Linked DNA regions of Homo sapiens. The protein of the gene in region 1 interacts with the protein of each later gene in a pairwise test. Each region holds a gene or a part of one and is shown in the gene's direction. Other genes may lie near its edges.

Region 1 (4,425 bases):
GATATTTAATATATCCAATATGTGTTATTTATATTACTTTCATAGTAATACAGTCATGCATCACTTAACAGCAGGGATACATTCTGAGAAATGTGTCGTTAGGTGATTTCATCATTGTGTGAACATCATAGGGTGTACTTAACACAAACCTAGATGGTGTAGCCCTACAGCACACCTAGACTGAACGGGATAGCCTATGGCTTCTAGGCTGTAAACCTGTACAGCATGTTACTGTACTGAATACTGTAGGCAGTTGTAACGCAGTAGCATCTGTGTATCTAAACATCTAATCACAGAAAAGGTACAGTAAAAATATGGTATGAAAAATTAAAAACCACACCTGTTTAGTGCACTTAACATGAATGGAGCTTTCAGGACTAAAAGTTGCCCTGTGGGAGTTAGTGAATGAATGGCAGATTAATGTGAATGTGATGGTCTACACGCTCAGGCTACACTGTATTTATTAAAAACCAGTAACAGGCTGAGCGGGGTGGCTCACGCCTGTAATCCTAGCACTTTGGGAGGCCCAGGCTGGTGGGTTGCCTGAGCTCAGGCGTTTGAGACCAGCCTGGGCAACATGGTGAAACCCATCTACTAAAATACAAAAAAAAAAAAAAAAATTAGCCGGGCATGGTGGCATGCGCCTGTGGTCCCAGCTACTCGGGAGGCTGAGGCAGGAGAATTGCTTGAACCCAGGAGGCAGAGGTTGCAGTGAGCCAAGATCATACCACTGCACTCCAGCCTCACCACACATGTGAGTAATGTGTTTCACAACGGCATTGTGCTATGATGTTACAACAGCTATGACATCACAAAGCAGTAGGAATTTTTCAGCTCCAGTATAATATGGGACCACAGCTGCACACGGTCCGTTGTTGACTAAAATGTTATATGGTGCATGACTGTGTTTAAATATTCCTATATTTTTATATTGTTTATTTTAAAGTTCTATGGCCAGGTGCAGTGACTCACACTTGTAATCCTAGAACTTTGGGAGGTTGAGGCAGAAGGATCCCTTGAGGCCAGGAGTTGAAGACCAACCTGGGCAACATGACAAGACCCCCGTCTCTACAAAAAATTTTTTTAAAAAATTAGTTGGGTGTGGTGCCATATGCCTGTAGTCACAGCTATTCGAGAGGCTGAGGCAGGAGGATTGCTTGAGCCCAAGAGTTGAGGTTGCAGTCAACTATGATCATGCCACTGCACTCCAGCTTAAACAACAGAGCAAAACCCTATTTCAAAAAAAAAAAAAAAAAAAAAAGGCCGGACGCAGCAGCTCACACCCGTAATCCCAGTACTTTGGGTGGCCGAGGCAGGCAGATCACCTGAGGAGTTCAAGACCAGCATAGTCCAACATGGTGAAACCTCATCTCTACTAAAATTACAGAAATTAGCCAGGCATGGTGATGGGCGCCTGTAATCCCAGCTACTTGGGAGGCTGAGGCAGGAGAATCGCTTGAACCCGGGAATGGGAGGTTGCAGTGAGCTGAGATCGCACCACTGCACTCTAGCCTGGGAAACAGAGTGAGACTCTGTCTCAAAAAAAAAAAAAAAGTTTGGTATATATCTTTATTCAGACCTTGCATACTCTAACATATATGTGGGTATATGTATTTTTTAACCCCAAAATGGGACTATTCATATGGCTTTTTGGTTGGGTTTTGTTTGTTTGTTTTTGTTTTTTTGTGACAGAGTCTTGTACTCTTTCACCCAGGCTGGAGTGCAGTAGCGCAATCTCAGCTCACTGCAACCTCCGCCTCCTGGGTTCAAGGCATTCTCCTGCTCATCCTTCCGAGTAGCTGAGATCACAGGCACATGCCACCACGCCAGGCTAATTTTTGTATTTTTAGTAGAGACAGGGTTTCACTGTGTTGGCCAGGCTGGTCTCGAACTCCTGACATCAAGTGATCCTCCCACCTCAGCCTCTCAAAGTGCTGGCATTACAAAGTCGTGATCCACCACACCCAACCTAGTCATACTGTTCTATAACTTGATTTTTTATATGACAGTGTATGTAAAACTTCCTTTCATGTTAGTTTCTGTAGATTTGTCTCACTCTTCATAATGACTGTATCATATTCCACTTAATGGCCGTGCTATATTTTATTTTAGTGTACTCGGTACTGGTCATTTGGGTGTTTCTAGTTTTTTACTCTTACAAACAATCCTGCTGTGAATATTTTTGGACAGTTTTGTGGTAACTAAAATTAAAACTTTTTTTTTTTTTTTTTTGAGACGGAGTTTCGCCCTTGTAGCCCAGGCTGGAGTCCATTGGCGCAATCTCGGCTCACTGCAACCTCTGCCTCCCAGGTTCAAGCAGTTCTCCTGCCTCAGCCTCCCAAATAGCTGGGATTACAGGCATGCGCCACCACGTCCAGCTAATTCTGTATTTTTACTAGAGACGGGGTTTCACCATATTGGTCAGGCTGGTCTCCAACTCTTGACCCAAAGTGATCCACCTGCCTCAGCCTCCCAAAGTGTTCGGATTACAGGCCTTAGCCACTGTGCCCGGCCTAAAACATCTTTATTTCAGTAAGGTCAGGAGTTCTAAGTTCCCAAACCCATTTTAAGTGTCCTTTGCTCCATAGATCTTCAGATCCCTACCTGTTGGCTATAACATCTCTAAGCAAGTTCTTGATCAGTATCTCACTCTGCTGGCAGATGATCCAGTAAGTCTGTTTTTGCTTTTTTTCTTTTTTCTTTAGCCTGTACTGTTGATAATTTATTTCTGCACTGATACCTAGTGTCATCCTCCTGCAGAGTTATTCTCTACCTAGCCAGCCCAGACAATTTCTCCACATCATTTGATAGGAGGGCTACCTGCTGCAGACTTTTGGTCAGATTTGTTCCATTGGAAACAGAATCACTGGACTTTCCGTTCAGTTAACACTCTCTCTTTTTCTTAATAGCTAGAGTTTGTTGGAAAGTCTGGCGACAGTGGTGGAGGAATGTATGTCATCAGTATCCTTACCAGTTATTTCCTTAGAGTCAGGCAGCCTGACCTATAAATCAGAATGGTGCCTTAGGAAAGAAAGATTTGGTAATGTTTATTATACTAAATAAATTAGAAAATTGAAGTAATTGTTAAATAAATTTTTCTATGAATTTTCAGTGAACTGCATTGATGATGAAGTAAAAAGAGGCCAGGCATGGTGGACTTTGGGAGGCTGAGGCAGGTGAATTGCATGAACCCAGGAGTTCAAGATCAGCTAAGCAACATGGCAAAACCCCATCTCTACCAAAAATACAAAAACTAGCCAGCTGTAACGATGCATGCTTGTAGTCCAGCTCCTCAGGAGGCTGAGGTGGGAGGATCGCTAGAGCCCAGGAGACAGACGTTGCAGTAAGCTGAGATCATGCCACTGTACTCCAACCTGGGTGACCCTGTCTCAAAAAAGAAAAGGAAAAAGGACTTTTAATCAACCAAATTTTAGTTAAGCAAAACCCTTACTTAAACACTTGTATTAAAGTTTTGGAATATTTATGTACCATGACTGAAACCATAAATTATAACATGAAAAACAAAATAGCATTTAAAATTTAATTATAAATTAGAAACTTAGGAATAAAACTCAGATCACAATAACTAGGCCAAAACATTACTGAGTGACCTTAATTCTCTACATAAAGACCTCCATAAGGCATTAGCATCCCTAGCCACAGCCACTCTGGAGTCCGTCGTACAGGAGAGGTAAGGGGGACACTGGTTGGGTTTGGGATCACATACTTCCTATCCCCAGTGAAGTAATTTGATCATTATGTAAGCCACCAATATAACCACACCTTGGCATACTTTTCCCCATTTTTTCACTGGACTCCTATGGATCTCATGTAATACTGCTCTTTACCTTAAAATAACCTACTGTTTAATTCCTACCGATGCAAATTAACCAGCCTCCCTAAAGCCTTTGCTTACAAATGTAGGAACTGTGGCACTCAAATGAGTCAGCAGTTGGTGACTGCCTTATGATTAACAGCAGTTGGTGATGCCTTACCATCACCAACCTATGGAGCTGTAGAATAATTTTCTGATCACTGTTCCTGTCTGGTACTGGCTTCACACATGGAATAGAACAACCACCCCATCTATGACTGGGAACTAAAGCTGATCTATGTTAGCATGCCATTTGCTTTCTTCATTCCTTTCCAGATTTGGGTCTCGCTGTGCTAGAATATTCCGTCTAGTTTTGCAGAAGAAACACATAGAGCAGAAGCAAGTGGAAGACTTTGCAATGATTCCTGCAAAGGAGGCAAAGGATATGCTATATAAGATGCTCTCAGAAAATTTCATGTCACTCCAGGTAACCAACCAAGGGCGTAATAATTGCCAACCAGCAAAGCTGGCCTAGGGTGAGAGAAGCTTCTTAGGCAAACATACTGAACCCCCAAGCAAACTCTATATCCAGCTCTGAGACAGAAAAACAT
Region 2 (5,026 bases), on another chromosome or scaffold:
AAAGCAAGGAACAGGCTGGGTGTCACCTGAGGTCAGGAGTTTGAGACCAGCTTGACCAACATGGAGAAGCCCCATCTCTACTAAAAATACAAAATTAGCCAGGGTGATGGCACGTGCCTGTAACCCCAGCTACTCGGGAGGCTGAGGCAGGAGAATCACTTGAACCGGGGAGGTGGAGGTTGCGGTGAGCCAAGATCGCGCCATTGCACTCCAGCCTGGGCACCAAGAGTGAAACTCCATCTCAAAAAGAAAAAAAAAAAAAAAAGCAAGGAACACCTTTGTCTGAAAAAAGCACCCTAAATTTAGCCTAAGAACTAAGTTTTCAGCTGGGCGCGATAGCACAAGCCTGTAATCCCAGCACTCTGGGAGGCTGAGGCGGGTGAATCACAAGGTCAGGAGTTCAGGACCAGCCTGGCCAACATGGTGAAACACCGTCTCTACTAAAAATATAAAAAATTAGCTGGGCATAGTGGCAGGTGCCTGTAATCCCAGCTACTCGGGAGGCTGAGGCAGGAGAATTGCTTGAACCCGGGAGGTGGAGGTTGCAGTGAGCTGAGATCGCGCCACTGCACTCTAGCCCAGGCCACAGAGCGAGATTCCGTCTCAAAAAATTAAAAAAAAAAAGAAAACTTTTTTTTTTTTTTTTTTTTAGACGGAGTCTCACTGTTGCCGGGCCAAGAACTGAGTTTTCTAAGAAAGCTCTGCCTTTTCCTGAGTTCTCTGAAAATGTGGAAGCCCTTCCAAGAGGCCAGTTCTTTGGGAGCTGGGGAGCCATCTGGGGCCTGTGGCCATCCTTGGCCACAGTTCTCCCTCCTTGTACCCTGGTCATGTCTTCTCAGGTTGCTCCGATTTTGGGGTCTTATTTACTGGCTGATTTCCTTGCAAAGGCCAAGGCGGAGTTCAAGGTTCAGCTGGGTGAAGGGCATGCCTGGCTTCCTGAGAATTAGGAAGGGTGACTGATGGCTTGAGACACATTGCTCTGCGGCTGGATTTCATGGTTACTATTCCATCCCGGGACCTGACGCGGATCAGTCTCCCCTTTCCTGTGGCTGGAGGGGCACACTCCGTCCCTGGAGAGCGTCTGGTAGGGGCTTGTAGAGGGGCGGGGAGGACTTCCAGAGGCCCGAGGACAGGCGCCAGGCTTGGCTTCGGGGCTGGGGCAGCTGCCATGTGCTCTCAGAGCACTGAGGGAGGAGCGGGGGAGCCCGGGGGCGAGAAACCCACAGCACAGGGAAGGGAAGGGCAGCCTTGAAACTGCAAGTTGGGAGATCACGGTTTCCTCACGTGGCCACCATGAGGGCTGAGGCTGTAGGCTGGCCGCTCCTGCCCCTCCCGACCACCCCCTCAGGCTTCCAGCCTCCTTGCTCAGCCACCTAGGCTGGGCTTTCAGGTTCACAGGCAGCCGGCCCTACAACATGGAGGCCCAGGCTGGGCTTTCTTCAGGAGTGGCATCTAAACTTAGGAGAGGGGAACACGTTTCACCCGAATCTGGGCTAGCAGTGTGTTGGTTAAATGGCCCCTGAGTAGGTGTGGGGCATGGCAGAGGTGCAGGAGTGGGTGTCCGAGGATGCAGCCAACTCATCTCCAAACAGCTCCTTTTCTTTTCCCCAGTGGGCTGCATTCCCAGACTGGTATTTTAGTTGGTGTGACAGAGTCCCAGAGTCATCTGGCCCAGGGGCTTGCACCTGCGCCAGTCCTTCCCTGTCCACCCCTGCCCGTCTCCAGGCGCTCCTATAAAGGGCTGAGCAGTTCAGCTCTTCTCACTGGGGGGTGTGAGGAACAGGGGGGACCATGGACTTCATCAGCATTCAGCAGTTGGTAAGGATGTGGGACGGAGGTGGGAGGCACCCTGGGACCGGCTTGATAGGAGGAGGCTGGCTAGAGAGGGCTGGCAGCTTCTTTCTGTGGTGTGAGGGTCAAGTCTTAGGTGCAGGGAAGCATGCAGTTCTTTTATAAAAATCTGTATTTTTTGAAACGGAGTCTTGCTGTGTTGCCCAGCCTGGCCTTGAAGTCCCACGCTCAAGTGATCCTCCCACCTGGGCCTCCCAAGTAGCTGGGACTCCAGGCGTGTACCCCCACACCCGGCTGAGCGTGCGGTTCTTTCTGGTGTGTCTGCTCGGTTCTCATGTGAGGTGGTGAGGGGGTTAGGGAGCAAGAGAGGGAAGTCGAATGGGAAAGAAGACATGAAAATCCTTGAGTTCAGTGAGTTTTGCCCTGGATAGTGATGGTGAAAGAGGAACAGGAAATGGCAGGTTACTTTGGAAGATGCAAGTGTGGCTGTGGTGGTTGTAGTTCAGCTTAAGCACCATGATAGTTGTTGCTCTGGAAATGGCCAGAGGTCCTGGCTGCCTTGGGGATAGGGAAGGGTGCTCTTTCGCTCCCTGGGCAGTGAGGGAAACAGTGACTCTTAGGGATGTCGGTTTGAGTGACGAGGGGCCTGGAGGGTGTGAGGCCCAGCAAGCCCATCTGTGGGCTGCTGGCCCCAGCCTGGTGCAGCCTCTGGCGGGAGGCAAATGGCAGGGAGGTGTTAGGTTGCTAGAGTTCTTTAGAAGGAATATGGTTCTACCTGACTAGAAAGTCCTAGGATCTGTTACCCTATCATTCCACCCTGTTCTTTCCCCACAACAGGCTGATTCCTCAGTGCTCCCCAGCTCCTGAACTCCTGAGGTGGGGCCCGGTGGGAGGAAGCATGGGTGTTTGCTACGGAGGCTTTGCCCCAGGCACAGGTCCCAATAACTCATAACCTTCACAACTCCTTTAGGCAATTGCCTTAAGTGTTTGAGCTTAAATGTAGCTTCAAAAGGAGCCGAGAACTGAACCCAGGCATTTAGAATTTTACCCCGGGGGGACTTCTCTGTCCCTCTGAGCTTGGAGTCAGGTGGCAGTCAGTATGATCTGGTAGGAATCTTAACAACATGGGGGAAGCTAAGGTGTCATCTGCCCTGAGGCTACCTGGGCAAATGCCCAGCAGTATAAATAGGTTGTGGCCTCATGTCCCCCCAGCTGTGTTCCTGCTGACAGGAGCAGGGTAGGCGGGGATCCGTTGTCCCCCTGGGTGTCAGCTGATGACACAGTTGCGGAGCCTGCAGCACCCACAGGGTGAGGGAGCTTGCCAGCACTCTGGACTGCAGGAGCTTTGAGGCCGGCTCCCATCCCGGGCACCAGCCTTGTGACATCTGCCCTTATAAGACAGCTCCCTGCTACTCCACAGCTCTGTTTTCTAAGGGTTCCTCCAATTTTCCCAACTCAGTACTCATATCCTGTTCCTACAGGTAAGTGGAGAAAGAGTTGAAGGGAAAGTGTTGGGATTTGGACATGGAGTTCCTGACCCTGGAGCCTGGCCTAGTGACTGGAGGAGGGGCCCCCAAGAGGCTGTGGCCCGGGAGAAGCTGAAATTGGAAGAAGAGAAGAAGAAGAAAGTGAGAGAGGGGCGGGGGCCGGGGTTGGGGGCAGTGGCTAATCCCTGAGGCCGGCTGAGCAGTGAGGCCTGGAGGGACTCTGGTGGGGCAGCCTGAGCAGCTGGTGTCTCCTGTCGGCAGGGCAGAGAGATCTCTTGACCAGCGGCTGATGGCTGGCATGGTCTTGTCTTCTGCCCCAGCTTGAAAGATTTAACAGTACCAGATTTAATCTGGATAACCTGGCTGACTTGGAAAACTTGGTTCAAAGACGGAAAAAGCGACTGAGACACAGAGTCCCCCCCAGGAAACCTGAGCCCCTGGTTAAGGTGAGTGGGAGGTCGGGGTTAGGGCAGTGCACACACCAGGGCTCCAGTTCCAGAGGAAGGGCTTGGGGCAGAGTGGGCACTGCAGGCCAGGACCACACAGCCAGTGCCTGGGGAGCCCATTAAATCCACTCCAGAGCCCCCGCGGATGTGTCCGCCAGGGCTGCCATAACAAAGTCCCACAGCCTGGACAGCCTCAACAGCAGGCATGTGTCACCTCGCTGTCCTGGGGGCTGGAAGGCTAACAGGAAGGTGTTGGCGAGGCTGGTTCCCTCTGAGGGTGGTGAGGGAGAATCCCTTCATGCCTCTCCGGCTTCTGGTGGATGCTGGTGATCTTTGGCGTTCCTTGGCTTGTAGATGTATCACCCAACTATTGCCTTCATGTTTGCTGGGCGTTCTGCCTGTGTGCATGCCTGTGTCCATGTGTCTCCCCCAACTTTTTTTTTTTTTTTTTTTTTTTTTTTGAGACGGAGTCTCGCTCTGTTGCCCAGGCTGGAGAGCAGTGGCACGATCTCGGATTACTGCAAGCTCTGCCTCCCGGGTTCATGCCATTCTCCTGCCTCAGCCTCCCGAGTAGCTGGGACCACAGGCACCCGCCACCACGCCCGGCTAATTTTTTTTTGTATTTTTAGTAGAGATGGGGTTTCACCGTGTTAGCCAGGATGGTCTCAATCTCCTGTCCTTGTGGTCTGCCCGCCTCAGCCTCCCAAAGTGCTGGGATTACAGGCATGAGCCACCGCATCCGGCCCACGTGTCCCCTTTCATAAGGACATCAGTCACATTGGATTAGAGCCCACTTTAACACAAGTCATATTGGTGAGGGGCCCACCATACGCCGGTGTGACCTCATCTTAACTAATTACATCCTCAGTGACTCTGTTTCCAAATAAGGTCACATTCTGAGGTACCTGGGGTTAGTACTTCATACGAATCTTGGGGAGATACAAGTCAATCCATAACACACACGCTCACACACACACAGTCTATTCAATCTCCTGGCGTGGGATTAGAATAAGAAACTGCATTAGTACGAGCCAGCAGTGTTCCTTGGTGGGCTGCATGGGACCCGTGGGCCAGACTGGTGAAGCTGTGACATCTTGGGCACCTGCGGCCTTCGGGAGTGATTTGGTCTTGTCTTCAACTGAACCAGCCGCAGTCCCAGGCCCAGGTGGAGCCTGTGGGCCTGGAGATGTTCCTGAAGGCAGCTGCTGAGAACCAGGAGTACCTGATTGACAAGTACTTGACAGACGGAGGGGACCCCAATGCCCATGACAAGGTAGCACAGGTTGGGTGAGTCGGCTGGCA
Region 3 (4,425 bases), on another chromosome or scaffold:
CACCAGGCCAGTCAGACCCACCCCCCATTTCCAGTTGGGCCACAGGTCAGTATCTCTCAACTGCTTTCCACTGGGCTGCATTTAGGATGGTTTAACCATATAAATCACCAAATAAATAATAATGAGTTAAATCCAATTGACTCCAACAGAGCAAAGATGGTAATAAATTTTCGTATGAAAAGCTGTATGACTACATTATTTATTAAATACCACCAAGAAAATATGTGTTTGCAAAACTCTTCTCTCTTCTTAAAGGAAAGGTTGGCTTTAATCATGTGGAAACACTTTTTTTTTTTTATCTTAAAACCCACTACAATTGTGCTGTTGGTTACCGTGCAGTTTCCTGGAAAGTAAAACTTTAATGACTGGAGTGTGAAGAAAATTAAGTTATTTCAACCTTACTATAGCCATTTTTGAAATAGAAGATGTGATTTAATATAAAAAAGTTAATGCAATTTTAATGCAAGTTCAGCTTATTGGGTTTGACAATACTGTACATCACACATAGCTCTTGCATTAATAAAGAAATACAATCATTATTTTTTAAAGTCCAATATTTGTTTTTTGCAGCCTGGTGTGGGCTATATGGAGATGTAGAACACAATTATAAAAGGCTGGGCTTTTTTTTTTTTTTTTCCTTTTTACCTCTATCATTTAGTGTGAAGCTTTCAGAGTTCATCCTGCTTTTTTGGAAAGAGAAGCTGAGACTTGGGCCTTTCTCTCCCTTTTATTGTCATTATTGCTCCTGGAAGTTAATGACTTTAAGCACATTGAGGGCTCACCCAAGTTTAGAGTGAGGGTTGGCCTTGACATTCTTATTCCACTCGCCACCAAGACTCCCTATGGCCTCAGATCCCGTAGTCCATCTCGGAGGACAGATCACTCTGTGCCTGTGGACAGAAAGCCTGGGGAAATGTCTGCTGGCTTATGGAAGCCTAGAGAGTTTTCCTGGGACTCTCAGGAACAGGATTTTTGGTGTCATACGCTTTATAATTTTATGCTTGTAACATTGTGTGTGTGTTCATGTAATTATGTGTGTCTGTGTGTGTGTATGTCTGCACACCTGCCTGTGAACATACTGGGGGTAACACACTCTAATGCCTTCAGGTTGGGTAGGCAGCCCCACAGGCCCAGGTCAGTGAGGAGTGGTGGCCCTCCGACAAACTGGAGAGTGCATGCCCTGCCTTGAGCCCACAAATCCTATTTTTAAAATGCTGCAGGCCAAAACCCCCAAATCTATGACCCATATATGGTCTGAGAGCTACTTATTTGCCTTCCCTCTTACCATAATATCACTATTGGCAGTGATGTAACACCTGGAATCTGAGGGCCAGCATATAATTTTGTATACATTCCCGAAGTATATTTATTTTGCTCATTAGAATAACTGTATTTTTTTAAAAAGGGAAGCACAGTTACTTGGTGTGAATTTAGCAAAGTGCACAAATACATTAGGAGCAAGGCCTGTGGGGTCTAAAGCAGCAGTTCTAAACTCAGCTGTGCAGAATCCTAGGGCTCTGCAGAGTCTCCCCCAAAGGGTCCTGAAAGGAACACTGCAGGGAATGGCCAAGTATGGGCTTAGCCCTCTCCACACCTCCCCTCATTCTTCAGATAAAGCAGCCCCACTTCTCTAAATCTGTTCTTTGTATTGGAGGGGATACAAGAAAGGGGTAAAACATGGGCTGTGGAGCAGCCTTCCTGGGCTTGAACTTGAACCCCCTCTCAACTAGACATGGGACTTGGGCAAGTTACTAACCTCTCTGTATCTCATTGGTAGATTAACTACAGCATTAGAATAGTGCCTGGCTATTATACATTGAGCTTAGTAGTATGCCTGTATTTAATTTCCTACCCCTCACATAAGAGTTTTGCATTGGTTCTTGTAGAAGAACAACAGATACAGGATTATTATGTTCCACATGGCTCCCACAAGGCTGCAATGAAAGTCCTGAATCAAGGACTCTAAGATCAAATGACTCTTGTGGTCATCTGGCTTGACCAGGGCAGGAATCCTTCCCATGTCATCCTGGTGAAGAGCCCACGTGCTGCACTCAAAACATGCCGAGCAGTTGCCTTTCCCTACCAGAGAAGGGCTGTTCCATCCATAGTGGATGTAAACATGTGTTTGTATAATATCATTTTAATTGGGCAAATGATGTTAGAGTAATAACAAAAGAATTATTTTCAAAGATTTTAAGTTTTATCCACATCAAATATTTTTATGTCTTACATTCTGTTTTAGATCTTGTCATTGTACATACATAATTCTACCATTTTAACAATAATCATTCAAGTTTACTTAATAGTTATCCAGCTTACTTTCTATTTTATTCTCATATTATAAACATTTTCTATTTTTCTAAAGAGGTGTCATAATGATCCATTTTAATGACTATGCAATATTTCATCTAGTTTAGTACTGTAATAAGCTATTTTCAATATTTATGTATTTTGAAACAATACATGTTTTTATGCAGTTATCTTATTTCCTTTTGAATAATATCTTCAAGCTATATCCTAGGAGTATATTCTGAGTTAAAGGGGGATAAATATTTTTGCAGCTCTTGATAATCTATTTCTAAATTGCTTTCCAAAAGGATTATGCTAGTGTACATGTCCCCCAGCCATAGATCTGCATAATGGTGTCAATACAGACTTTCCAGCATTGAGTAAATTTTCTACATTATTTTTGTTAATTTAAAAGTCAAAAGTAGTATTTCGTTGCTCTTTTTGAATCAAAAAATCCCACTGATCCCAATGAGTTCTTTCTGGAACAACAGAGAATAAATTAGCTGAGAGCTTCAAATATATGAAGATAGGATCAAATGGAAACTCAATGGAAGAGTAGCATATAAACGTAAGTTATTACTTGTAAAGATATTTGAGTTCCTCACAAGAAGTCCAAACCAAATGAAATTTTCCAAAGAAATCAATGAAATGCAACTTTGAAAATTTTTTTCTACCAATCATTTTTTTTTAATGAGATAGGGCATGTTTTTTGGTACTTCTTCGGGAACTTTCTGACCCTACTTAAGTGGAAAGAAGATGTTTTTAAAACCCATGCCTTGGTTCCACAGGAAAGTGAGCTAGCTGTATCTGTTTCCTTGCAGCCACTTCTGACGGCACAGCAGTTAGCTTCTGCTGTGGCCGGCGTGATGCCGGGAGGCCCCCCAGCCCTCAACCAGCCAATCCTCATTCCCTTCAACATGGCGGGACAGCTAGGAGGCCAGCAAGGACTGGTTCTCACACTGCCAACAGCGAATCTCACCAACATCCAAGGGCTGGTGGCAGCAGCTGCAGCCGGAGGCATTATGACTCTGCCACTGCAAAATCTACAAGGTAATCCATAATGTCCATGCGCCACGTAAGGCTCTACCCGTTGGCCAGTATTCTCTGAAGTGGGCAAAAAAAAATGTGCCTAGAATGGTGAATGTGGTTCAGAGTTGCTTCTGCCCTAAATGATATGGAAGGCTTCCACAGGAAGCAAAATTTTCAGTTGTCTGTGAATCCTGAGCCTGCACAAGCCATTGGTTTTATCAATCCTCATTTCCTAACATTGGTATCAAAACTTTTCAGGACTCCTGGAAGCATTTATGAGTCATCATTGCATGACATATCAGAAACTTAAAAGTAAAATTCCTGTGTTGTTATTTGAAGACCTGAGTTATCATCTCACCAATTCTTCAATTTAGCCATGGGTAAAGAAAAGTTAGAGGTTGCTTTTTTGTGTTTGAAGTGATTGGAACATCTCAAATACAAGATATTATTTGGAATAATTTATTAATGATTATTTTGCTCTACAAAGTATGTTTTAGTTATAGTTATTAAACAAAAATTGTGTTATTTGAGCTCATATTTTGCAATGAGAAAAATAGACTTGTATGTTGAGCCTTTATACTACAGGGACATATAACAAGTCAGACTCTAATTTTACTTAGGAAGGGTAGTTGTCTTGATATTATGAAGGTTTTGACTTTTCTTTAAAAGATTTGGTAGCATTGACTGATAGATTGATTTACAAAAGATTCTGTCAGAGGAGTAATTATTTTGGTGGAAAATGACCTGAATATAAATAGGATGCCTGCTAAAGAGAAAATGAATTTATTTTGGACTAGTCAAAGATGTTTGTTTTCTTCATATATATATAAAATTAACAATTAAAATTTTTGCAGAATGAGGGCCTGTCTGGGTAAGTTATCAGAATAGCAATTTAAAATACTTTTTTAGCTGGTCAAATGTTAGGGCTTCATATAATTTATCGGAGAATCAGTCCACAAGACTAAGAAACAGACCAAGTAAGAACTGTTCACTCTTGACCCAAACTTCTTTCCGTTCTCTATGTTCTGTTACCCCACCCATTGTTGCCACTTCTTGACTTCCATTTTGATGTTTAAAACGAAGTCTCTCTTGTACCATTAAATTGTG
Region 4 (3,824 bases), on another chromosome or scaffold:
ACATAATTTGTATAATTCAAAAAGTACATGCATTCATTAAGCATAAAGAAAATCAAAATGATCAATAACTTTACTCTTCAGAGAAAACTACTCTTTGAATTTTGGAGTGGGTGAGCCCGATTGTCTATCCATTTATTCATTCTCTTGACCAAAATCATCATTTTACAAATGGTGGGTGTCTTCCTCTGGACCTTCTCTGATATGCTTCCCTCTCTGAGCATATGGATTTTGGAAATTAAACATTTCTCCAGTTTGCAGAGAAGAGAAATGATAGTATACTGTACTATCATCTGACCTGCTTGTTCCCGACACACTTCTTTTAATTCATCCCAAGTTTGCTGCCATGGCATAGTACCATGAGAGCTCATGAGGCGTTTTGTTAGGAGAAAGGTTTACCTCCTCAGTGCTGCCATTCCGAACAGTTCGAGGGTAGCAACAGTTTTCTAGTTATAAGTCAGTCTGGGCTTTTGGGTCTGTTAGGAAGTCATGGTTAATTCTCAGGATGGAGGTCGTTATATTTACTAACACTTCTGATCACTTTAACTTGGGGTCATTACAGATCTGCTTCTTCAAAGAATCTTTAATCCCATCAGTGAAAGGTTCCCAAGGTCCCTGAACCATACTTTACTGAGAGCTCCTCCCACTGCTCTCTGTCCCAAAGCTTGAGATATGGGCTCTGGGGGTCATAGGGTTCCCAAATAAATCCAGATTTGCAGGGAGAGGGGATGTGTTTTGATGAAGGTCCTCATGCTATAGGTTCTTCAAAGATGCTAGCAGAGGTTAGAGACAAAAATCCTATTAATTTATGGATAGTGGCAACCATCTAGCTGGACAGTTGTCAGAACCTAAAGTGCTTTAGAGGCTTGATACATAGGCAGCTTTCTTCTAGCTGTGGCCAGTGGAAGGACTAGCTCGAGGCCCAATCTTAGATTTATCATATGGAATTCCAGTACTTCACGTGAAGGCATCTTTAATGATCAGACTTGTTGGCAGAGTTCCTCGGGAGGAGGGAGCCTGGGGCTGTGGCTGTGTGATGTGTTCCTCAGTAACCACAGGTTTGCCTCTCTCCTCACAGCCCCCAGTCCCCAGCCAGACCTCCTCATACTCCTGCATGCTGCCCACCAGCCCTTCGGTGAATGGGCGGAGTTATGATACCTACACCCCCCCACATATGCAGACACACATGAACAGTCAGCCAATGGGCACCTCGGGCACCACTTCAACAGGTGAGCCACTGCTTTCTGCAGGCTGCACAGAGGCGATCTCTCTTCACTAGAAGTTTACCCAAACAGAATCTCCTGGTCTTATGGGAGGGCGTGTTTAACTCCTTGCTTTCCTTGTCCCTGGGGGATGGGGATTGAAAAGGGAAATTCAGTTAAGCTAATTAGTAACTTTACACCATATAGACAAAAACTAAAATTGTTTTTCCTGAATTTGGTCACAAAAGTTGTGTATGAAGACAAGGCCTGAGACTGCAAGTTTTCTGAGGACAGATTATTAGACGAAGCTCAGTAGGGGGCCCACTGAGCTGTAGGTGCGTGCTTGTTGAAATGCTTCTTGCCCTCATAGCTCCTCTAGACCTTTTGCTGGAAATAAAAAGTGACACATTGGTTTTCCAGAGACAGCTTTATTGTAAAAGTTCCAAACATGCAAACAAACAGAGGATTTTTTTTTTCTTTTCCTTTGGATTGGGGTGGGGGGTACTTGGGATCCAATAGGTATATATACATATATTGTCTAGTTTCTGAAGGTGCTACTTTTATTTGTAACAATTGAAGTGATTTTAATACAGTAAAAAATGTTAGAAAGTATTAGTTTTTTTTTTTTTTTTTTTTTTTGTAAACCTATAAATTTGTATTCCATGTCTGTTTCTCAAAGGGAATATCTACATGGCTATTTCTTTCATCCACTTCTAGGACTCATTTCCCCTGGTGTGTCAGTTCCAGTTCAAGTTCCCGGAAGTGAACCTGATATGTCTCAATACTGGCCAAGATTACAGTAAAAAAAAAAAAAAAAAAAAAAAGGAAAGGAAATATTGTGTTAATTCAGTCAGTGACTATGGGGACACAACAGTTGAGCTTTCAGGAAAGAAAGAAAAATGGCTGTTAGAGCCGCTTCAGTTCTACAATTGTGTCCTGTATTGTACCACTGGGGAAGGAATGGACTTGAAACAAGGACCTTTGTATACAGAAGGCACGATATCAGTTGGAACAAATCTTCATTTTGGTATCCAAACTTTTATTCATTTTGGTGTATTATTTGTAAATGGGCATTTGTATGTTATAATGAAAAAAAGAACAATGTAGACTGGATGGATGTTTGATCTGTGTTGGTCATGAAGTTGTTTTTTTTTTTTTTAAAAAGAAAACCATGATCAACAAGCTTTGCCACGAATTTAAGAGTTTTATCAAGATATATCGAATACTTCTACCCATCTGTTCATAGTTTATGGACTGATGTTCCAAGTTTGTATCATTCCTTTGCATATAATTAAACCTGGAACAACATGCACTAGATTTATGTCAGAAATATCTGTTGGTTTTCCAAAGGTTGTTAACAGATGAAGTTTATGTGCAAAAAAGGGTAAGATATAAATTCAAGGAAGAAAAAAAGTTGATAGCTAAAAGGTAGAGTGTGTCTTCGATATAATCCAATTTGTTTTATGTCAAAATGTAAGTATTTGTCTTCCCTAGAAATCCTCAGAATGATTTCTATAATAAAGTTAATTTCATTTATATTTGACAAGAATATAGATGTTTTATACACATTTTCATGCAATCATACGTTTCTTTTTTGGCCAGCAAAAGTTAATTGTTCTTAGATATAGTTGTATTACTGTTCACGGTCCAATCATTTTGTGCATCTAGAGTTCATTCCTAATCAATTAAAAGTGCTTGCAAGAGTTTTAAACTTAAGTGTTTTGAAGTTGTTCACAACTACATATCAAAATTAACCATTGTTGATTGTAAAAAACCATGCCAAAGCCTTTGTATTTCCTTTATTATACAGTTTTCTTTTTAACCTTATAGTGTGGTGTTACAAATTTTATTTCCATGTTAGATCAACATTCTAAACCAATGGTTACTTTCACACACACTCTGTTTTACATCCTGATGATCCTTAAAAAATAATCCTTATAGATACCATAAATCAAAAACGTGTTAGAAAAAAATTCCACTTACAGCAGGGTGTAGATCTGTGCCCATTTATACCCACAACATATATACAAAATGGTAACATTTCCCAGTTAGCCATTTAATTCTAAAGCTCAAAGTCTAGAAATAATTTAAAAATGCAACAAGCGATTAGCTAGGAATTGTTTTTTGAATTAGGACTGGCATTTTCAATCTGGGCAGATTTCCATTGTCAGCCTATTTCAACAATGATTTCACTGAAGTATATTCAAAAGTAGATTTCTTAAAGGAGACTTTCTGAAAGCTGTTGCCTTTTTCAAATAGGCCCTCTCCCTTTTCTGTCTCCCTCCCCTTTGCACAAGAGGCATCATTTCCCATTGAACCACTACAGCTGTTCCCATTTGAATCTTGCTTTCTGTGCGGTTGTGGATGGTTGGAGGGTGGAGGGGGGATGTTGCATGTCAAGGAATAATGAGCACAGACACATCAACAGACAACAACAAAGCAGACTGTGACTGGCCGGTGGGAATTAAAGGCCTTCAGTCATTGGCAGCTTAAGCCAAACATTCCCAAATCTATGAAGCAGGGCCCATTGTTGGTCAGTTGTTATTTGCAATGAAGCACAGTTCTGATCATGTTTAAAGTGGAGGCACGCAGGGCAGGAGTGCTTGAGCCCAAGCAAAGGATGGA
Region 5 (4,425 bases), on another chromosome or scaffold:
GAATTGGGTTTTGTTTTGAGAGCCAGGGCCAATTTGAAAATCTTTTTTTTTTTTTAATAGGTTAGTTAGGCCCATTCACATAGGTTGATAGATTGATTTGAACTGTCATTTTGTGAAATAATGTCCCTGTGTTTTTTTTTTTCTCTGCTAAGCATACTTTTGTCTTTCTCAATTTTCTTTTGGTATTTGGGGAAGTTTGTATTTTTGTTCTAGTGGTTACCTTTATTCTTACACCTTTTTAATGCTCTCTTACTATCTGTTTTGACAGTTTTAAATGATATATTTTTTTACTTCTGTCTCTTACCTGTGCAATGATGCATGAGCTTATTCTATTTTCTCTTCTTGCCTCAACCTCCCATTTTTTAATCTGATTCTAGACTTATCTATTTTGCCAAATTTGGAACATATTTCTTCATATTTTTTTCAGCTCCGCCTTTCCTTGTAGGGTCTCTGAAGACACAAATATTAGATCTATTGTTATTGTGCTGGAAGTTCCTGAGAGTTAATTTCTGTTTAATCTTTTTTTTTTTCTGTTATTCAGTTTGGATGATTTCTATTGATGTATCTTTGGGTTCATTTATTTTTTTTTCCCCCTTCTATCATGTCGGGTTTTTTTGCTGAGAATTCCCACTTTAAATTTGTTTCAAATGTGTTCATAATTGTTCACCAGTGCATTTTTATGATAGTTACTTTAAAATCTTATCAAGTCCTTGTCAGATAATTCCAATATGTGTGTCATCTCAATATTGGCATCTGTTGACTGTCTTTTCTCTTTTGAGAATTTCCTGGATCTTGGTATGAAGGGTTATTTTCCATTGTAGCCTACACATATTGGTGTTATGCTTTGAGACCCCTGTTTCTAGGTAAATCTAGTTACTGTTACTGCCAGGGTGGGCAGTAGCCAGACTTTGTTCTCAGACCCAGCATCTGCAGACACCTCCAGCAGGGAGGCCTCCTCACTTCCAGAGTGGGAAATGGGCTGGTAGGTGGGCTCAGCTCTTAGGCCCAGCTTCTGTCCTCTCTTTTACACAGTCTTGAGGCAAGAGGTCCAGACAAAAGCTAGAATTTAATTTTTTCTCCTCTTACAGATAATGGAAATTTTTAGTGTTCTCTGACTCTTAGTAATGCTGAAGGGGTGTGGGTTATATGTGTAGTTCTATTTTATTTATTCATCTATATCCTTTTTTGAAGGGTATGTGAATTCAGGTGCCTGCTATTATTTTAGGGCAAAAAGATGTGATGTCTTCAATTTGGATGACCTAATAGGAAACATCTTGATTTTGCATAAGCTACAACCAGTGCTTATATTCCTCTGTGACGACACCAAGCAATGCCACATACAAGATCTTTGACCTTGAATGAATCACCAGATCGCTAAGCCTGTTTTCTTCTATGTAGTTGCAAAGTTAGGATAGGCCTAGGGCATGGTTTATACTCCAGGTTTATACTTCAGTTGGGGACACATTTCAGGAGATTTTCAAACAGTTTTTTCCCCAGATGAAGTTAAAGTGCCAAGTCATTTCTTTTATTGGTTTACTTTAGTAGCCTGAAAAATTGTATTGCTAAATATGTTGGAAAACCAGTAGAGTAAATAGATGACCTTTCTGTTCTCTTCTGAACTTGAAACAGTATGGTGTGTTGGCCTCATTCTTGTAAATAGTGTTTTTCTGTGGGATTATTAGGTAGCTAATTTGTGAGGGCAGGGAGAATTACTTTTCTGCCTGTTTTTAAATTCATCTGTCTGATACATAAATGCAGAAGTTGGAATAGAAGTTTTCCCAGACTTCTGTGTCTCATTTTCTGTGAAGAATGATCTGAGGTAGGCACTGAAAGAAAGATAAGGTACTTTCTACTTAATAGATTAATCAGCTAAGCAGATATTTTTGCCACTAAGCTAAAACTTGAAATTTGGTTACTTTTTCTGTCACTACTCCTGAGGTGTGTTGAACAAGTAAAGCATTCAAACAAATATGTAAAATGGTTTTTCTTTTGTGTTTCCTGTAGATTCTTGTAGACACTGTTTGGGCTCTGTCATACTTGACAGATGGAGGTAATGAACAGATACAGATGGTTATTGATTCAGGAGTTGTGCCCTTTCTTGTGCCCCTTCTGAGCCATCAGGAAGTCAAAGTTCAAGTAAGTATTTTTAAATTTTTCTTATTTGTATACAGTTGTGTTTGCTATAACCAGTTAACTTGTACAGCTAGGCTTTAATTCTATCTGTAAGTGCTTATCTTCCACATTTCTTCTGCTAGTCCCTGAGCCTGATTTTGTTGATTTCCAAATCTTTATCTCACCCAGTTTCTTTGCTGAGTTCCACACTTGTATAGCCAATTGTTCTTGACCCTTTATACATATCATCTAAGAACTCCTTCAAGCTTTCCGTGGTTAACTAGACAGAAATGAAACGATCATCTCCCACAAACCTGCTCTTCTTCCTTGTCTACCTTCAGTGAACAGCATGGCCTAAGCTAGAAATTTTGATTCCTCCTTGCAATTCCCATTCCATTACAAAATCATTTCAATTCTTCTTATATAGGTTCAAATCTGTCTCTCCTTATCTATCTAGAACAACAGATTTAGTTCAAGACTCTATCTTTCCCCCAAATAATTGCAATAACCTAATTGCATTTCTTCTTTCTCTCTCCCACTCTAATTAGGGGTAGGCACTTATTAGATCTGTTCATCCTGCTTTACCAAAGTGACTTTCTAGGTGGAAGTGTGTGCCCATTCCAGGCGTTTATTAAAATATTATATATATTTTTGAGATGGAGTCTTGTTCTGTCGCCCAAGCTGGAGTATGGTGGCGCGATCTCTGCTCACCGCAGCCTCTGCCTCTCAGGTTCAAGTGATTCTCCTGCCTCAGCCTTCAGAGTAGCTGGGATTACAGGCATGCACCATCACACCAGCTAATTTTTGTATTTCTAGTAGAGATGGAGTTTCACTATGTTGCCCAGGCTGGTCTTAAACTCCTGACCTCAGGTGATCCCCCCCGCCTCGGCCTCCCAAAATGCTGGGATTATAGGCATGAGCCACCATGCCCAGCCTTAAGAAACTGGACTTCTTCTAAAATTTTAATTTCCTTTTATTTTTTGAATCTTTTTCCAACCAATTTTCACACAATTTTTTTTTTTCATAAAGTTTCAGTTTTTCACAAGAGACTATTTAAAATTCAGAATAGCTCTCAGACTGCTTGGTGCTTTGTGAAAGGATGAAATAAGTGTTATTTATGCCTTGCATTTTTACTTTTTCTCAGGATTATGAAAAATATAGAATTAGTCTTATAAGCAAATAAATTTATAGAAAACATTTTATCCCCACCCTAGACAGCAGCCCTCAGAGCAGTTGGCAACATAGTGACTGGCACCGACGAGCAGACCCAGGTTGTTCTCAATTGTGATGTCCTGTCACACTTCCCAAATCTCTTATCACACCCAAAAGAGAAGATAAATAAGGTAAGGCATATAATGTCCTCATTATGCTATTTCTTTCTGTGTCTCATTTTTAACTGTCTCCTTGTTTCTATTGCTACTTGTATGTTTTTCTTAAAAGCCACTGCAGCGAAGATGAGAATTATTTTAAATCACCTCTGCAAATGTTTTTCTTCAACTTTTTTTTTTTTTTTTTTGAGACAGAGTCTGTCTGTTGCCTAGGCTGGAGTGCAGTGGCACGATCTCGGCTCACTGCAACCTCTGCCTCCTGGGTTCAAGCGATTCTCCTGCCTCAGCCTCCCGAGAAGCTGGGACTACAGGTGCCCGCCACCACGCCCAGCTAATTTTTGTATTTTTAGTAGAGATGGGGTTTCACCATATTGGCCAGGCTGGTCTCGAACTCCTGACCTTGTGATCCGCCTGCTTCAGCCCCACAAAGTGCTGAGATTACAGGCGTGAGCCACCGCGCCCAGCCTTTTTCAACTTTTAATCGCTTCTGGTAGGTGCTGCCCTGGTCATCACAGAGTAAAAAACATTTTTAGACTACCTGTGTTTCTATTTAAGTAGACTGAGCATAGCAACAATCATTAAATTAGTAGCCGCTTGAAAGTGCAGACAAAATCTGCCATTTGAATGGGCTGGTATTTTTTTAAACAAACCGATCATAAAAATTTTGATCTCCCAGCAAAATTAGTTTGGACCCAAAGACGAGGTGCCTAAATTCAAGGATCATAAAAAATTACTCTTTTTAAGATTTCAAGCTTCATAGACAAGTTTATTATTAATTGTGTAATATGTACTTACTAGTATGTAATAAGTCTTCATGCCTGGCTTATTTCATCTAGCATGTTTTCAAGGTTCATTCATTTTGCAGCATGTGTCAGAACTTTATTCTTTCTATGGCTGAATAAATATTCCATTGTATGTATACACCACATTTTGTTTTTACATTCTTCTGTTGATGGACACTTCGGTTGTTTCCACCTTTTCACTA
Region 6 (4,425 bases), on another chromosome or scaffold:
GTCAGGGAGGGCTAATAGGAGCAGCTTGAGGGAGTTTTAGGGGGTGACAACTGTTCTGTGTCTTGATTGTGATAGTTACATGCATGTATATTTGTTAAATTCATAGAAATGTATACGAAAAGAGTGATTTTTACTAAATATAAATTTAAAAATAAACCTAAAATAACGGAATTCATTATTCTTGTCTCAGAAACAAGCCGATATGTAAACACAACAACCACTACTCTGATCCTCCATCCGTATTCTCTGTCTTATGTTATCTTGCCATACTACTCAGATGGCTCAGTTAAAAACCATGGAGTCATCCTCAACTCCCTTTTCTTCCTCACCAGATATCTGTTACATTCATTTGGCCTCTAATTTTTACTGAATCAATTTCAGAAATATTTCTAGAATCCAACTTGTCTTCTATGTTTTCATTGTAGTAACTTGTTTAGTTCACGCCTTCAGCATCTTTCCTATCTCTCTCTCTGAACTATGTAAAAACAACCTTTTCCTTAATTTGTTTAATTCTATTCCTTAGGATCAAGTCCAAATTTCACAGCTGCATTATAGGAACCATATGTCCTCTAACCTACCTTTATAGCTTTATGTTCTGCCATGCATCCTCATTTTGGACACACTTAGTCTCTTACTGTTCTTGGTTATGCAAGGCTTCTTCAAAAACTTTGCCTTTGCATATATTCCTTCTGCTTGAAATGCTTGATTCTCCCCATTTCTCTTTCCTGTTTTTCCTTTAAAATAGGATACCCATGAAGCTTTCAGAAGTCCCTAAGGCACAATTAGTTGCCATATCTTCACTGCTCTCTCAAGATTTAAAGCATGTATTTTAGTGTACTCCTTACAATAAAATTTGCCAATTCATTAGTCTGTCTCTTCAATATCAGGGATGGCAGACAGATGCCAGCCTCTCCTTCTCTTGTGTTTACTTCATAAGCTAATTGGTCACAACATTGTCTCTGGTTGGACATGGATATGTCCTCTGAATTTAACAGAATAACATACTGGGTACTCACTATCTACTGTTAAACTGAAGTTGGCACCCTGCTTTAGGCAGATTTTGTGTGTGTGTGATGTGTAAGTCCAGAATAGGTTATAATATCAGTATTTTAATATTCCTATAAGATAATATCAAGATATCAATACTGTTACATTGTTAAAGTTTATAATTCACTTTCTAAAAGTAAAACTAGCACATATATTCAAATATGAAATATATTTGCATATATTTTATGTATTTATAAAATAGGTATATAAATGTTAATGTTTTAAAATACATTTGCAATAAAACTACTTAAAAATAAAGTATACATGTATTTTAGTATTTCAAAAGAACTAATTATACTGGAGTACTAAAAACTGATATTGTAGTCATAATTCAAGTCCTGACCCTTGTGGCCATAGCTCTTAAGGCAATGCCTTCAGTAAGTGAAAGAAGCCAGACCCCAATAAATATTTGAGATGTGCTTACTGGAGCCTAATATCATATTTCATTAAAAATAAGATACTTCAAAGCTGGTTATTTCTTGATCTAGCCAGAAACTGTAATTTAGAAGACTTTTTTTTTAACCCAAATAATTCATGATTATTTCCTGACAGTAATTATGTTTCAGAAAGGTTAAAACACTGTGGGGGCTAGGGAGACAGGAAAGGTTGTTGCATCTTAGAATCAATAAGATAGGGTAAACTTTGTCTTTGTTTAGACCAAAATTATTTGTTTAAGATATTATTTCTAAAATATGTGGTCATTTTGCTCTAATCTTGATGTGGAATTAAGGGAATGTATTCTTTGTACATAATTTTCAGAATGGGTTTTGTTGACCTGTTAATCAGTGAGCCTGAATTTAGTTGCTAGATTAAGTGTCTCATGTTGTTTTGAGAGAGTGAGTTATCAGTGTCTGTTTTCTTTTCTCCTTCCTTTAAGATGCCATGGCTAGTCCAGGGAAAGATAACTATAGAATGAAAAGTTATAAGAATAAAGCCCTAAATCCTCAAGAGATGCGTAGACGAAGAGAAGAAGAAGGAATACAGCTTAGAAAACAAAAAAGAGAAGAACAGGTAGGTGTTTTTAGCTATTTAATTTTGTTTTTTAAAATTTTAATTATTTGCTAATTATTGGATAATTTTAAATGGAAATGTTTTAAGAAATTGAATATAGCTAAATCTATTATTTATTAGACTCCAGGCATCATAATTGCAAATTTGTGAAACAGAACTCTGTGCTACTTTAGTCACTGGGAGAAATGGATTTTCTGTTTTATTGATAAACCTGTTGTGTTAATTATATTTTTACCCTACTGCTAGGAAATTTTTCCTCTTGCATCTATTTAGATCACTTCCATTTGTCATTGTAAAATTTGCCCCTTAAAGAAACATTAATTATATATTATTTGCTGCTTTGTAGTTTTCATAATTCTTGCCCGTAAGTAAATTATTGTCATCTTCCCATGCTATTCATACTGTTCCCCCATTGTCTTATTAGCTGGATCTCTGTTTATACTTTTCATATGTGACATAAAGAATATAAAATTGTTTAAGAGAGTACATCTCAACATTTTTTATTCCAAGATGTACTTAAATGTAGAAGTATTTGTAAGTAAGTAAAATAATGTGGTTCTCACACATGTGAATTAAAACTGATGTATGAAAAGGACTAGCAGTGAAGAAAGTAGAAAAGGCCTATTCTCTTCTATTGTATTCTATTCTATTGTATTCTGTAAGTAGAGATGGGGTCCTGCTATGTTGCCCAGGCTGGTATTGAACTCCTCGCCTCAAGCAATATTCCTGCCTCTGTCTCTCAAAGTGCTAGGATTACAGGCATGTAATAGGCAAGGCCTATTTCAGAAATATGATAATGATTTCTCATCTCCCTATCTACAGCGTCTAACACAATCCTTCATACATTATAGTAGGTACTAAAAAAATTGTGTTGAATAAATGATTAGAAGGAAGATTGTTTACATATTAAAGAAGAACAGGCTGGGAGCCCTGGCTCACCCCTTTAATCCCAGCACTTTGGGAGGCTGAGGCGGGCGGATCACGAGGTCAGGAGATTGAGACCATCCTGGCTAACAAGGTGAAACCCCATCTCAAAAAAATTAGACATGCGTGGTGGCTGGCGCCTGTTGTCCCAGCTACTCAGGAGGCTGAGGCAGGAGAATGGCGTGAATTCGGGAGGCAGAGTTTGCAGTGAGCCGAGTTGATGCCACTGCACTCCAGCCTGGGCGACAGAGTAAGACTCCATCTCAAAAAAAAAAAAAAAAAGAAGAACGATATTTATTTAGATGTCAAAAAGAATATAAGCAGATTTTGTTTTCCTCAAATTTTGATTTAGGAAATGTAGAGTTATCCCTTGGTTCCAGGATCCTCTGCAGATATCAAAATTCACTGATGCTCAGGTCCTTTATGTAAAATGGCATGGTATTTGCATATTACCTGCACACATCCTCTTGTATATTTTGAGTCATCTCCAGATTACTTATAATATCTAATACAGTGTAAATGCTGTGTAGTTGAGTTGTTATACTGTGTTGTTTTAAAATATGTATTATTGTCGGGCTCAGTGGCTTATGCCTATAATCCCAGCACTTTGGGAGGCCTAGGTGGGCGGGTCACCTGAGGTCAGGAGTTTGAGACCAGCCTGACCAACATGGTGAAACCCCGTCTCTACTAAAAATAAAAAAATTAGCCGAGCATGGTGGCGCACGCCTATAATCCCAGCTACTCAGGAGGTTTAGGCAGGAGGATCGCTTGAACCCAGGAGGTGGAGGTTGCAGTGAGCCGAGATTGTGCCACTGCACTCTGTCCTGGAGACAGAGCGAGACTCCGTCTCAAAAAATAAAATAAAGTGAAATAAAATATGTATTATTTTTTATTTTCGTATTTTGTTGTTGTTGTTTATTTTTAAGAGATGGGGTCTTGCTGTGTTGCCCAGGTTGCCCTCCAATTCCTGGGCTTGTGCAGCCCTCCCACCTCAGCTTCTCAAGTAGCTGAGACCAGAGGCACGTGCTGCCATGCTTGGCTTCTTATTTTTTATTGTTATTATTATTTTTGATCTGAGGTTGGTTGAATCTGGGAATGTGGAACTCACAGATATGGAGGGCCAACTGTACCTATAAATCTCCTTTAGTGAACTCACCATGTTTCTTTCTTCTTTTTTTCTGCTTCATTTTTATCTGCTCCTGAATTAATAAGCATAGTACTGTCATTCCTAAGATTTGTTTTCTATTCCTTGTTAATCAGATATACTAAATCTGTTAATGTATCAGATGTTATCTTTCATATGCAACAGATGTGCTTTTTAAGTTTTCTTGCAAAAATTCTTAGATACCTCATAATCCAGTGTGTAAATATGTGCTTTTTTAAGTGCTATAAAATGACCATGTGTATTCCACTTACACGCTTACTGTTGGTAAAAGATCTGAG
Region 7 (4,425 bases), on another chromosome or scaffold:
CATGTGTGACGAGGCCACTGGCCTTTCCCCTCCCTTGCCCCATCCTTTTCTGCTGTCTCTGCTCCCGAATCTTCCCCAGAGGCCTGGGCAGCAGGGTCAGCCAGCCAAGAGGGGCCGCTTTCTGGGGCCCTGCCCTGCCCAGCTCTATAGGGAGTGTGTGCCCTTCCCTGCTCAGCCTGGCAGGGCTCACAGACACTAGCCTGGTGGCCCATGTGGGAGCAGGTACAGAGCAAGGCAAGGAAGCCCTCAGCCCGGCATGGCCCAGCCAACAGTGCAGTTTTTATTTTTTTTATATTGGATAAACTTTAAAAATCCAGAAAAATCCCAGAAATAATAAAATGAACACAGTATCTCTTCTACACAGAATTGAAAATGGTTACTCTTTTGTCATTTTGGCTTTAAGTCCTTTTTTAAAAAAATTATAAGAAGTATTACAAAGAAATATTAAGTAACCCATTTCCTTCCAACTACTGCTTTTGTATTTTTCCTCCCAGGCTCTTTCGGGTACATTTACACATGGATATAAGTATCCATAACTAATATATAGGATTGTTTTGTGTGGGTGTTTTTCTTAACTTTACATAAAAAACCTGGAACTTGTACTTTTCACTCAACAGTCTTGTTGACACCTGTGCTCGTCGATGTGTTTGATCGCAGGCTGCTGCGTGGCGACCTGTAGTGTGAACACTGTCCTGCGTGCCCCCATCCCAATGGAAATCTAGGTTGTCTCCTGTGTTCCATTGTCACTCAGCACACTGTGGCCAGCACCGTCACGGCCCGGGCCCTGAATGCGTCTGGGGCGCAGGTGTGAGAGTTTCTTTAGGGTGTGTCCCTGGCAGTGGGGCTGCCGAGGAGGGTCCTCGAGTCTTCTGTCTTTGCAGGTGCCGCCACTCTCCCTGCAGTGTCCACTCACACAGCAGCGTTGGGGCCGCCCCTTTCCCTGGGTGCTGCCATTCCTCAGGTTGGCAGGTTGTCAGTGTTGATGGGTTGTCAGTGTCGACCGTTTGTTGGGTAGGAAGAGGTCTCACATTTTGTATTCAGCCTCGTGAATCTTCCATTTTTGGGGAGTTGTCTCTTTTCAAACATGGAGATCTCCCTAGAAGAAAGCATCTCCCACGAGGTTTTGGATTTCATTTCAGGGGTTCATGGGCCCCTCCTTTTTTGGCGGAGATGGCAGCTAGGGCTGGGCCATGTTGTAACAACACCTAATGTGTACATTACTTTAAATGTTTGGTTTTATTTGATTCCAATTGTCCAGAAAGGCCCTTCTCCCCAGCCCCATTTTACAGACAAAGAACCGAAGTTCAGGAAAGATTGGCAACTTGCCCAAGCCCAGGCAGCAAGAATGGCCCCTGAGCTCCAGTCTAGGGCATCTCCCACCCCTCCCATCTCTCCCACTAAACCTGAGATAGGCCCAAAACTGACCTTGATATGTCCTTGACTCCATCCAGTGGTACCCCAGTCGCCAGCAAGCGACTATATCCTGGGGTGTGTGTGGCCTGACCGCTCGCGGGGGCATCACTGTCAGCTGGCGGATGCCTTCTGCCGAGAGGCACACTGTGAACAAGCGAATGGCCTGTTAGGTAGTTAATAGATAAACTTAGGAAATTCAGAGCGAATCAATTTTTGAGTCTCCAAGCTCTGAGCCGGTTGCCAGGGAAGAGAGGAATGGAGGAGGAGGGATCATCGTATTTGCTTTCTCTCTCCCCAGAGCACACCAGGCACTCCCTGCCTCGGGGGCCTTGGCCAAGCTGCCTCTCTTCCCCTGACCCCTCACAGCTCACTCCCTTGGGCTGCTCAGCAGGCTCTCCCAGATGCCCCCTGCCCTGGCTCTCCTTTTGCCTCCCCACTGCTCCCTGCCCCTCCCCCTAGCTTGTCTTCTCCCTGGCACTTTGCCCCATCTGATGTGCTGGACAGCTTACCCACAGAGAGGCGGAGGTCCGGCTCCCTGCCATGGTTGTGTCCCCAGTGCCTGGCCCGAGGTGGGGAAGGGGTGAGTTGGGTGGGCCTCTGCCTTCCGGCCTGGCTCCCAGGAGGCCAGCAAGAGTCCTCCTGGTCTTGATTCCTTAATGTAGGGTAGTTTAAAAAGAAGTCGCACATGCTGAGATTGCTGGCAAGATGTGCATTAAGGTGATGCTAGTTTAGTTACTATTTAATGGTATTTTTATACCATAACCTACTTTGCTGAGAGCTAAGAATATATCTGCATGCTTGCTACCAGGACTTTTCTTTTCTGGTAACAGTTGCTAGCGCTTAAATGGTGCTTATTATATTAACGCGCTAGATCTGTGAAGTAGGTACTGTAATCATCCCAAGTTTACAGGAGAGGTAGCTGAGGCACAGAGAAGCCCCATTCCCCAGGAAAGGTCACACAGGGTCAGGATTTGAATCCACATTCTGCTCCTCTCAGAAGCTCATTACCCTACTCTATTCTGTGCTTTAAAAATGCTGTGACTCCACTGGCTGACTCATGGCCAGCTTGTGGTCTACTCTGACCTGAGGCTTTTGGGCACCTGTCCTTGGCCGGCTGCTCACCATGATGTATTTGTGCTTTTCCAAACCAAGGGCCCCCTACCTCTAGGTTCCCCTTTGTGAAGATGTTACTTCGTTTCGTCATCAAAGACAACCAACACTCTGACTCCATATGACACCAGCAAGACTAGAAATTTTTATTTTATTAATTAAATTACCAGGGCAATATGATCTTGTAAAACACACACAGACACATACACACACACACCAAGTAATACAGAAGTACGTGCCGTAAAATGTGACTCCTTTACACTCAAGTTCCCTCACTCTCCAGAGGTACCTGGCCTCTTAATTTTAATGTCAGTATGAGGATATGTGTGTGTGTACATATATACACATCTACATATATAGCAGATATAGATGATTTCAAAACACAGATGGAATCACCATATATGTGATTCTGCAATCTGTTTGCCCAACACTTTCATGACGACCCCCCGTGTCAGTAAGTCTTTTCTTCAGCTAAGTGCCTTCCAATTCTTAGCAGAGAAATGTGTGCATACGCGTTGGCCACATTTTTTAAACCAAAAATTGGGACCCATCCTCTAGCAAGTGTGATGGGATATATAATAGGATGCTATATTTGAAATCAGGGCCTGAAAGGTCATTAGGAGGGCCCAACTGTTGTGAAGGAAAGCTGTGTTCTCAGCACGACCAGCTGCAGGGGCTGGGCCTGTGGAGGTGGGTGCAAGTGGACTCCTGCCGCGGTCAAAGGCCACAGGACTAAGGATGTCTCAGGTCTCACTTGAAAGAACTGAAGGACCTATTCCCATCTTTCCATCCCCCTTTTCTAGGAATCCCGAAGAGCAGAGGGGAGAGATATGCAATGTTTAGGTTTTGTATCTTCTACTTAAAAATTCTAACAGGGATGTTTCCCTCATTTTTGCTCCATTGGCCTTTAAAGAGTCTATATTGAGCCACCCTAGAATTTAACAGTAATTTACTAGAAGAGACCAGGTGGAGATAAGTGTGCAATGTCTGTCCCTGGGAAGACCACTCCCATTTCCCTGTGTTCCGTGATGCCACCTCCCTCATCCAGGCAAGAGATGTGGCCTTTCTGGAGATTTTAAATATATTTTCAAAAAATTTAATTCTCTCTCTCTTCCCCCACAAAAATTGAATCTGATTTGATTATTTTTAAAGCATCTTTTACAGCTGCAAGTCACTTTGTTAGTGTAGAAACATAAAAATGCATTATGTATCAACTTGGTTTTTAAAAAATTATCATATTGGCATATTACACAGATATGTATATTTTATTCATAGAAAAACTTGAATTTATTTAAAATGAAAACATCCTTTTATGTTAGAGAAAGGTGGTGTTGCTAGCTGCCAAACTTTTGGGTGGCTTTTGTCTCCTGGGTTAGAGGGTCACTTGTTGAGGGCTCAGTTCCTGGTGGACATAGTTCTTTTTGTATTGACATAATTATCCAAAAATAACTTAAGTTATGATTCTTTGTTAAGCCAGACAGAAGCTTTTGTTGAATTCTAGAACAGATTGGCAACAACCAGGCAAAGATTTAAGAAGATTTTATGGGAGGAAGCATAATGGCACACTTGTACAGGGTGGAATTTGGGACCCACAGTCCTTGTTTCCTCACTTTGTGAGCAGCAAGAGAAGCCTGGAGGGCAGGAGCTGCTGTCGCCCTTACAATGAAGTACTGCAGGTGTTATGCCTTTTGCTGTAATGCCCTCTGGGTGTCAAGCACATCCCAGTGAGTGCCGTTTCCAGCAAGGAGCTGAGGAGCCTTGATTCTGTCACCCAACACACCCTGAATTCAAGTGCTGAGAACAGTGCCTGGCACACAGTAGGTGCTCCACAGTGACTCAGCAATGGTCTGGGTCACTCAGGCCTTGCACCTGGGACTGCTTCCCAGAGCAGTGGCACACCCA

Evidence for each region.
Region 2: the proteins of POLR3C (region 1) and ANKRD23 interact in binary tests that used the Homo sapiens proteins (3 or more experiments, as listed by UniProt).
Region 3: the proteins of POLR3C (region 1) and POU6F2 interact in binary tests that used the Homo sapiens proteins (3 or more experiments, as listed by UniProt).
Region 4: the proteins of POLR3C (region 1) and PAX6 interact in binary tests that used the Homo sapiens proteins (3 or more experiments, as listed by UniProt).
Region 5: the proteins of POLR3C (region 1) and KPNA3 interact in binary tests that used the Homo sapiens proteins (3 or more experiments, as listed by UniProt).
Region 6: the proteins of POLR3C (region 1) and KPNA5 interact in binary tests that used the Homo sapiens proteins (3 or more experiments, as listed by UniProt).
Region 7: the proteins of POLR3C (region 1) and CAMK2B interact in binary tests that used the Homo sapiens proteins (3 or more experiments, as listed by UniProt).

What each region holds. Positions count from the first base shown.
Region 1 is NC_000001.11:145,833,906-145,838,330, forward strand, and holds part of POLR3C (DNA-directed RNA polymerase III subunit RPC3), read left to right. Parts: intron 1-2,588; coding exon 2,589-2,669; intron 2,670-2,909; coding exon 2,910-2,961; intron 2,962-3,112; coding exon of another isoform or gene 3,113-3,115; exon of another isoform or gene 3,116-3,586; intron 3,587-3,630; coding exon 3,631-3,691; intron 3,692-4,150; coding exon 4,151-4,301; intron 4,302-4,425. UniProt on the Homo sapiens protein: DNA-dependent RNA polymerase catalyzes the transcription of DNA into RNA using the four ribonucleoside triphosphates as substrates.
Region 2 is NC_000002.12:96,840,758-96,845,783, reverse strand, and holds the start of ANKRD23 (ankyrin repeat domain-containing protein 23), read left to right. Parts: upstream 1-1,762; 5' UTR 1,763-1,791; coding exon 1,792-1,818; intron 1,819-3,272; coding exon 3,273-3,419; intron 3,420-3,598; coding exon 3,599-3,724; intron 3,725-4,871; coding exon 4,872-4,997; intron 4,998-5,026. UniProt on the Homo sapiens protein: May be involved in the energy metabolism. Could be a molecular link between myofibrillar stretch-induced signaling pathways and muscle gene expression.
Region 3 is NC_000007.14:39,204,282-39,208,706, forward strand, and holds part of POU6F2 (POU domain, class 6, transcription factor 2), read left to right. Parts: coding exon 1-45; intron 46-3,110; coding exon 3,111-3,339; intron 3,340-4,425. UniProt on the Homo sapiens protein: Probable transcription factor likely to be involved in early steps in the differentiation of amacrine and ganglion cells. Recognizes and binds to the DNA sequence 5'-ATGCAAAT-3'. Isoform 1 does not bind DNA.
Region 4 is NC_000011.10:31,788,112-31,791,935, reverse strand, and holds the end of PAX6 (paired box protein Pax-6), read left to right. Parts: intron 1-1,075; coding exon 1,076-1,226; intron 1,227-1,611; exon of another isoform or gene 1,612-1,916; coding exon 1,917-2,002; coding exon of another isoform or gene 2,003-2,306; 3' UTR 2,307-2,910; downstream 2,911-3,824. UniProt on the Homo sapiens protein: Transcription factor with important functions in the development of the eye, nose, central nervous system and pancreas. Required for the differentiation of pancreatic islet alpha cells.
Region 5 is NC_000013.11:49,708,602-49,713,026, reverse strand, and holds part of KPNA3 (importin subunit alpha-4), read left to right. Parts: intron 1-2,004; coding exon 2,005-2,136; intron 2,137-3,326; coding exon 3,327-3,455; intron 3,456-4,425. UniProt on the Homo sapiens protein: Functions in nuclear protein import as an adapter protein for nuclear receptor KPNB1. Binds specifically and directly to substrates containing either a simple or bipartite NLS motif.
Region 6 is NC_000006.12:116,687,396-116,691,820, forward strand, and holds part of KPNA5 (importin subunit alpha-6), read left to right. Parts: intron 1-1,924; coding exon 1,925-2,058; intron 2,059-4,425. UniProt on the Homo sapiens protein: Functions in nuclear protein import as an adapter protein for nuclear receptor KPNB1. Binds specifically and directly to substrates containing either a simple or bipartite NLS motif.
Region 7 is NC_000007.14:44,318,388-44,322,812, reverse strand, and holds part of CAMK2B (calcium/calmodulin-dependent protein kinase type II subunit beta), read left to right. Parts: intron 1-257; exon of another isoform or gene 258-1,205; intron 1,206-1,425; exon of another isoform or gene 1,426-1,544; intron 1,545-4,425. UniProt on the Homo sapiens protein: Calcium/calmodulin-dependent protein kinase that functions autonomously after Ca(2+)/calmodulin-binding and autophosphorylation, and is involved in dendritic spine and synapse formation, neuronal plasticity and regulation of sarcoplasmic reticulum Ca(2+) transport in skeletal muscle.